Linked DNA regions of Homo sapiens. The protein of the gene in region 1 purifies or fractionates together with the protein of each later gene. This does not show direct contact. Each region holds a gene or a part of one and is shown on either strand. Other genes may lie near its edges. The genes, in order: DMAC2 and CELA3A.

Region 1 (4,242 bases):
CTCAACCCAGTCTCCTATCTCTGTCTGCAAGCTGGTTCCCACCTCAAGGCCTCTCTGCTCTAGAGGCTACCTCTCCCTGCAGCGCTTTTCCCCTAGATCTTTGAATGGCTCTTTCCTTATCATTCACTTCTACTTCAATGTCACCTCTTCAGAGAGGCCTTTGCTGATGGCCCTACACCCAGTCACTTTTTTTTATCTGCTTCTCATCAAAATTGCCTTGCTGATTCCTTTGTTTCTTATTCATCCTCTCCCACATCCATCCTCTCCCAGCCCAGAATGTTGACTTCCTGAGAGAGGGACTGGGTCTGTCCTGCTCACCATGGTAACCTCGGCATCTAGAACAGTGCCTGCCATCACGTGGTAGGTGCTCAGTAAATATTCTTGGAACTAATGAATGAATAATTCTATCCACAAGACTTCACAATGGCTCTTCATGCTGCGATCTAGCTTTCAACTCCAAACTGGTCTTGAGATCTCACCTCAGTCTCTAACCTTGACATCTAACCTCTTCACCCACTCTCTTACCTGACCCTAATTTTTAAAAATGACGTGGTCAGCTTTTCAGCCCCCTCATTCCCTGTTTTTAGGAGGTAGTGAGTGGAAGCTGGAAGAATAAGAAAGCTTGGGGAGACTGCAATTGCAGTCAGGAAAGAAAGGTACTCTGCCGGGAAGAACACCCCATCTTCTCCTAGGGAAAGATTGTGGAGTCCTGGGGTTTGTTTTGTTTTTCAATTTTTTGTTTTAAGAGACAGCGTCTCGCTCTGTCACCCAGGCTGGAGTGCAGTGGCGCAATCACAGCTCACTGCAACTTCGACCTCCCCGGCTCAAGTGATCCCCCCGCCTCAGCCTCGTGAGTAGCTGGGACCACAGGCGTGCACCACCACGCCCGGCTAACATTTTATTTTTTGTGGATATAAGGTTGCCCTATTTCTTTGTGGAGATAAAGGCTCCCCTATGTTGCCCAGGCTGGTCTCGAACTCCTGGCTTCAAGCGATGCTTTCGCCTCGGCCTCCACAAAGTGCTGGGTTCACAGGTGCGTGAGCCCGACCTGTGTCTCGTTTTGAAGCTCAGGGAGAGGGCGCTGTGAGCAATCCCTAAACCCTTTAAGAGTAAAAAGTGCGTGCACCTTTAAGAGGACGGTTAGAAAACGCGGGGCGTGGCCACAGGAGAATAAGTTCGCGCTGAACCAGGAGCGTGGGATAAGACCGGCCCCTTCCGGTTACGAAACCTTAGCAAGATGGCGGCTCCCTGGGCGGTAAGTGACCGGAGTTCCTAGAGCCCCAAATTTGAAGTCCGCTCTACAGCCTCCGCATTCAGGGCCTCTGTTGGCGGCCACGAGAGCAGAAAGCCGTGAGGCAGCAGGCTAAGCCTGGCAAGCCCCGTACTGGGAGTGCAAACCTGTGGCTAGTGGGGGCCAGGAAGGATCTGTGAGGGTCGCAGGCGGAGGAGACGCTTTAGCGAGCGAGAGGAGGCAGGGACTTGGCTGAGAGTATCCAATGGGGATGAGGGAGTGGCTGCCGAAGAGCGACGCGACTAACCAATCAGAGGGAGGGATGACACAAGGAGCTAATGGACAGGCAAGGGTGGGGCCTGTAGGATAAGAGAGCTTGGAAGGGATTGTTCGAGGATGTGGGATTTGGTCTTAGAAGACCGAAGGATGAATGTAAGGAAAGTTAGTGGGAGATTGACGAATTTTTACAGAAAACTCAAAAGCATGATGGGTGGGGGAACCAAGAGGTCAATTTGGAGGTTCTAAGGGCATGATCTGGGTGAAATTAAGAGGAGAATTTGAGATATTCTTTCAGAGGATTTAAAATCAAGGAATGAATTTAGGGAAAATTAAAGAGGTTGGCAGCTTTAAACTTTTGAGGAAAATAAGGGTTTGGGTAAAATTATCGAGATAATTTGAAAAAAAAAAAGAATTTGGTTAAAGCAAAGAGAAATTGGGGTAGATTAAGAGGAGACCTTGAAAGCAAAATTGAAGAGTTTGGGGGCTTCTTCCCATTGGCCACACCCCTCGACTTTCTTACTCTCCTCTTCAAAGCTCATGCTTTTTATACCCTTCTCGGTTCAGGGGTGTCCAATCTTTTGGCTTCCCTGGGCCACGCTGTTCGAAGAAGAAGAATTGTCTTGGGCCACACATAAAATACACTAACCATAACTGATGAGCCAAAAAAAAAAAAAAAAAAATCACAAAAATATCCTCCTAATGTTTTAAGAAAGTTTGCATGTTTGTGTTGGGCTGCATGCAGGCGGCGGGTTGGACAAGCTTGGTTGGTTTTAGGGATTGCTCAGAGCACCCTCTCCTTGAGGTTTGGAGATAAGTTTTTAAGATTATATTCTGGGGAAAGAAAGAAGTCATTTGGGAAGACCCCAGCAGAAGAATTGGGTAATTAAGGGGCAAATCTGTGGAAAATTAAGAGGTCAAATAATGCAGGTTTTGAGTGATAAGGGTTTGGGGGAAAGTTAGAGGAAGAATTTAGGAAAATCAACAATATATGGCTAGTCGAGAAAATTTAGGGTTCACTAAGGGGAGGAGGAACTTGGAAAAAACATGGGGAAATTTTTGGAATCTCAAAGACAGTTTTGAAGTTTTGAAGGAAGAACTTAGGGTGAGTTGGGAAGCAGAGGGATTGAGGTTCATGGAGCAAGAACTGGGGGATCCAGCTCTGTGTCTCCCAGGAGGCTCCAGGCTCAGCTCCTTTCCTCTCCCCCTCCCCAGTCCCTGCGCCTGGTCGCCCCCATGTGGAATGGGCGTATCAGGGGCATCCATCGCCTGGGTGCGGCAGTGGCCCCAGAGGGCAATCAGAAGAAGAAAAGGACAATACTCCAGTTCCTGACCAACTATTTCTACGATGTGGAGGCTCTGAGGGATTACTTGCTCCAAAGGGAGATGTACAAGGTGCATGAGAAAAATCGGTGAGAATCCCTGGTCTGCAAGACCCTGTGGAGACCCTGGCCCACCAGAGCCCAGGTCCTGTCCTTGCCATTCCCAGGCAGCACTGTGGCTTCCAGTGCCAGCCTTGATGTCTCTTGCAGCTCCATCTCCAGGCTGTACCCTTCTCAAGGACTCCAGCTCACATAGGCAGTTTGCCACCCACCAGCTCCACTCAGAGTCTAACTGGCATCTCAAACCTAACATGGCTAAAGCCAAACCCTGATTTCTCCCCTAAAAACATCTGCTCACTCCCAAGCCTTCCCATCCCAGTAAACACTGGTGCTGCCCACCCAGTTGTTCAGGCCAAATTCTAAGGAGTCATCCCTAATTCCTCTCTTTGCTTCCCTGCCCTCCACATCCAGACCATCAATAAAATACTAGAATATCTCAGATTTGACCAGTTCTCACTGCCTTCACCATTCGTAGCCTGATCCCTTATAGTTGAATCACTCAATAAGCTAACTGGGTTTTTGTTCCCATACTCTTTTTTTTTTTTTTCTGAGATGGAGTCTTGCTCTGTCTCCCAGCCTGGAGTGTAGTGGCGCAATCTAAGCTCACTGCAACCTCCACCTCCCAGGTTCAAGCAATTCTCCTGCCTCCGCCTCCCAAGTAGCTGGGATTACAGGCGCCCGCCACCAGGCCCAGCTAATTTTTGTATTTTTAGTAGAGATGGGTTTTCACCATGTTAGCGAGGCTGCTCTCGAACTCCTGACCTCAGGTGATCCGCCTGCCTCGGTCTCCCAGAGTGCTGGGATTACAGGCATGAGCCACCACACCCCGCCAAAATTTGTTTTGTTTTGTTTGAGACAGAGTCTCACTCTGTCGCACATGCTGGAGTACAGTGGTGTGATCATGGCTCATTGCAATCTCCACCTCCTGGGTTCAAGCGATTCTCCCGCCTCAGCCTCCCAAGTAGGTGAGATTACAGGCAGGCGCCACCACACCTAATTTTTCTATTTTTAGTAGAGATGGGGTTTCACCATGTTGGCCAGGCTGGTCTCGAAATCCTGACCTCAGATGATCCACCTGCCTCGGCCTTCCAAAGTGCTGGGATTACAGGCGTGAGCCACCACACCTGGCCTGTCCCATAGTTTTTTATAATCTACAAAGCAGCTGAAGGAATCTTATCATCACCAGCTCAAAACCTTCAAATAAGAGCCAATCTCCAAGGCCTAAAACATAGCTCCTACTGAGCTTTGAGACCCCCTATCAGGACTCCACTGGCCCCTTCAGCATGACATCCCTATTTCTTATTTATTCAACCATCCTAATTCAAGTCTCTGAGCCTTTATACTCTGTTCCTT
Region 2 (3,810 bases), on another chromosome or scaffold:
CGACACAGCAAGACGTTGTCTCTTTTTTTTTTTTTTTTGAGACAGGATCTTGCTCTGTTGCCCAGGCTGGAGTGCAGTAATGCCATCATAGCCCACTGTAGCCTTGCCCTCCTGGGCTCAAGCAACCCTCCAATGTCAGCCTCCCAAGCAGCCAGGAGTACAAGTGTGTGCCACAATGCCTAGCTAATTTTTAAATTTTTTGTAGAGATGAGGTCTCACCATGTTGCCCAGGCTGGTCTCTAACTCTTGGGCTCAAGTAATCCTCCTGCCTTGGCCTTCCAAAGTGTTATGTTTACAGATGTGAGCCACTTTCCTGGCCAAGACCTTGTCTAAGAAAAAAAAACAAAGGCTGGGCGCGGTGGCTCACGCCTGTAATCCCAGCACTTTGGGAGGCCGAGCCGGGCGGATCACGAGGTCAGGAGATCGAGATCATCCTGGCTAACATGGTGAAACCTCGTCTCTACTAAACACACAAAAAGTTAGCCGGGTGTGGTGGTGGGCGCCTGTAGTCCCAGCTACTCGGGAGGCTGAGGCAGGAGAATGGTGTGAACCCAGGAGTTGGAGCTTGCCGTGAGCCGAGATCGCGCCACTGCACTCCAACCTGGGTGACAGAGCGAGACGCTGACTCAGAAAAAAAAAAAATACTATCAAATACCCTCATTGTATTGTAATTGAGTATGAATTAATAATTAACTATGGTGCCACTAATAAGAACTATGTTTATCGAGTGCTTCTTCTCTACTGGATATCGTGCTAAGATCGTGCATCATCTCATGTAATTCCCTAGGCTCTTGGACAGATACTACTATTCCCTATCACAAATGAGTCAGCTGGCTGGGCGTGGTGGCTCACACCTATAATCCCTTTGGGAGGCCCCGGCAGGTGGATCACCTGAGGTCAGGACTTTGAGACTAACCTGGCCAACATGGTGAAATCCCATCTCTATTAAATATGGCTGGGTGCAGTGACTCACGCCTGTAATCCCAGCACTTCGGGAGGCTGAGGCGGGCGGATCACGTGGTCAGGAGATCGAGACCATCCTGGCTAACACGGTGAAACCCCGTCTCTACGAAAAATACAAAAATTAGCCGGGCGTGGTAGTGGGCACCTATAGTCCCAGCTACTTGGGAGGCTGAGGCAGGAGAATGGCGTGAACCCTGGAGGCAGAGCTTGCAGTGAGCTGAGATCCTGCCACTGTACTCCAGCCTGGGCGTCAGAGTGAGACTTCGTCTCTAATAAAAAATAAATAAATAAATAAACAAAAATTAGCCGGGTGTGGTGGCAGGTGCCTGTAATCCCAGCTACTTGGGAGGCTGAAGCAGGAGAATCACTTGAACCTGGGAGCCGGGAGACGGAGGTTGCAATGAGCCAAGCTTGCGCCACTGCACTCCAGCCTGGACAGCAGAGCGAGACTCCATCTAAAAAAATAAAAATAATAAATGATAAAAAAATGAGCGAGCTAAGGCTCAGAGGTGTCAAGTAATGTCAGAGTTTCTTGAAATCCCTAGAATTCAGAACCAGTTCCGTAAACCTCAGACATGGCTCAGCCACCCACTCCTCTCTGACGGTTCCAGGGTGACTCTGGAGGACCCCTCAACTGCCCCACAGAGGATGGTGGCTGGCAGGTCCACGGTGTGACCAGCTTTGTTTCTGCCTTTGGCTGCAACTTCATCTGGAAGCCCACGGTGTTCACTCGAGTCTCCGCCTTCATCGACTGGATTGAGGAGGTGAGGAGGGCAGGGCGGCCCGGAGGGCTTTAGGGTGGTGGCTCTTCTGAGAGGTGACAGGTGAGAAACATCGGATCCTGGGGAGGGCCTGAAAGGATCCTAGAAGCTCAGTGGGGAAGGGCCCTTGGGGACATTCCAGAAAGGCTTGGGGATGTTTTCTGATACAGTGTGACCCCAGGAACTTGATGGCTTCTGGGTGGTGCTTGGAACTACAGCTGAACTTCCTTATTTCAACAAGTATTTATAAAGTATCTCCTCTGGTCTTGTCCTCTCTTGTCAGGGAGGATAGAGAGACATGCCAGACAAGAGGCTGCCTGGTGGGGGACAGGTGATTACATGAATGAGAACGATGCAGTCTGATGAGAGCCGAGAGAGGGGAGTCCAGGCCCCAGACTTCATCTGGGGATGGGTGATCAGAGAGGACTAATAACGCTCATGGTAACAGTAATAGCTAAACAACAAAAAAAAAGAGAGTAATAGCTGGGCATGGCATAGTCATGCCTGTAATCCCAGCACTTTGGGAAGCAGAGGCAGGTGGATCACGAGGTTAGGAGTTCAAGACCAGCCTGGCCAAGATGGTGAAACCCTGTCTCTACTAAAAATACAAAAATTAGCCGGGCATGGTGGTGGGTGCCTGTAATCCCAGCTGCTTGGGAGGCTCAGGCAGAGAATTGCTTGAACCTGGGAGGTGGAGGTTGCAGTTAGTCGAGATCATACCACTGCACTGCAGCCTGGGTGACAGAGCGAGACTCCGTCTCAAAAAAAAAAAAAAAAAAAAAAGAGTAATAGCTAGCTGGGTGCAGTGATGCCCACCTGTAGTCCCAGCTACTTGGGAGGCTGAGGCAGGAGGATCGGTTGAGCCCTGGAGTTCTGGGCCATAGTGCGCTATACCCATCAGGTTCTGCACCAAGTTTGGCATCAATGTGGTGACCTCCTGGGAGTGGGGACCACCAGGTGGCCTAAGGAGGGGTGAACTGTCCCAGGTCAGAAACAGAGCAGGTCAAAACTCACATGCTGAAAAGTAGTAGGATCACACCTGTGAATAGCCACTGTACTCCAGCCTGGGCAACACAGCAAGAGCCTCTCTCTTAAAAAAATGAAAATAAACTAAATAAAATAAAACAGTAGTGCTTGCTTTGGCAGCACATGTACTAAAATTGGAATGATATAGAGATTAGCACGGCCCCTGCGCAAGGATGACATGCAAAGTCATGAAGCCTTCCAATAAAAAAACATTTCTGGTCGAGTGCAGTGGTTCATGCCTGTAATCCCAGCACTCTGGGAGGCCAAGGCCCATGGATCACCTGAGGTCAGGAGTTCAAGACCAGCCTGGCCGACATGGTGAAACCCCATCTCTACTAAGAATACAAAAAATTAGCCGGGCGTATTGGTGCATGCCTGTGGTCCCAGCTACTCAGGAGGCTGAGGCAGGAGAACTGCTTGAATCTGGGAGGCGGAGGTTGCAGTGAGCCGAGATTACGCCACTGCACTCCAGCCTGGGTGACAGAGCAAGACTCCATCTCAAAAACAAAAACAAACAAACAAACAAAAAAACAGTGATGATTTATAGACCATTTAATCCCTTGGTTCCCTGACCCATGTTAAAAAAATATATATATAAGGCCAGGCACGGTGGCTCATGCCTGTAATCCAAGCACTTTGGTAGGCCAAGGCAGGTGGATCACAAGGTCAGGAGTTCGAGACCAGCCTGGCCAATATGGTGAAACCCTGTCTCTACAAAAATATAAAAAAATTGGCCAGGCGTGGTAGTGCGTCGCTGTAATCTCAGCTACTTGGGAGGTTGAGGCAGAAGAATTGCTCGAACTCAGGAGGCAGAGGTTGCAGTAAGCTGAGATTGTGCCACTGCCCTCCAGCCTCGGTGACAGAGCAAGACTCTGTCTTAAAAAAAAAAAAAGGCCGGGCGTGGTGGCTCACACCCGTAATCCCACCACTTTGGGAGGCCGAGGTGGGCAGATCACGAGGTCAGGAGATTGAGACCATCCTGGCTAACACGGTGAAATCCCATCTGTACTAAAAATACAAAAATTAGCCAGGCATGGTGGCGTACGCCTGTAGTCCCAGC

The links.
Region 2: the proteins of DMAC2 (region 1) and CELA3A purify together in Homo sapiens (co-immunoprecipitation; one large-scale study listed by IntAct). This does not show direct contact.

Annotation. Positions count from the first base shown.
Region 1 is NC_000019.10:41,436,895-41,441,136, reverse strand, and holds the start of DMAC2 (distal membrane-arm assembly complex protein 2), read left to right. Parts: upstream 1-1,224; 5' UTR 1,225-1,237; coding exon 1,238-1,255; intron 1,256-1,599; exon of another isoform or gene 1,600-1,627; coding exon of another isoform or gene 1,628-1,663; intron 1,664-2,722; coding exon 2,723-2,919; intron 2,920-4,242. UniProt on the Homo sapiens protein: Required for the assembly of the mitochondrial NADH:ubiquinone oxidoreductase complex (complex I). Involved in the assembly of the distal region of complex I.
Region 2 is NC_000001.11:22,008,131-22,011,940, forward strand, and holds part of CELA3A (chymotrypsin-like elastase family member 3A preproprotein), read left to right. Parts: intron 1-1,574; coding exon 1,575-1,727; intron 1,728-3,810. UniProt on the Homo sapiens protein: Efficient protease with alanine specificity but only little elastolytic activity.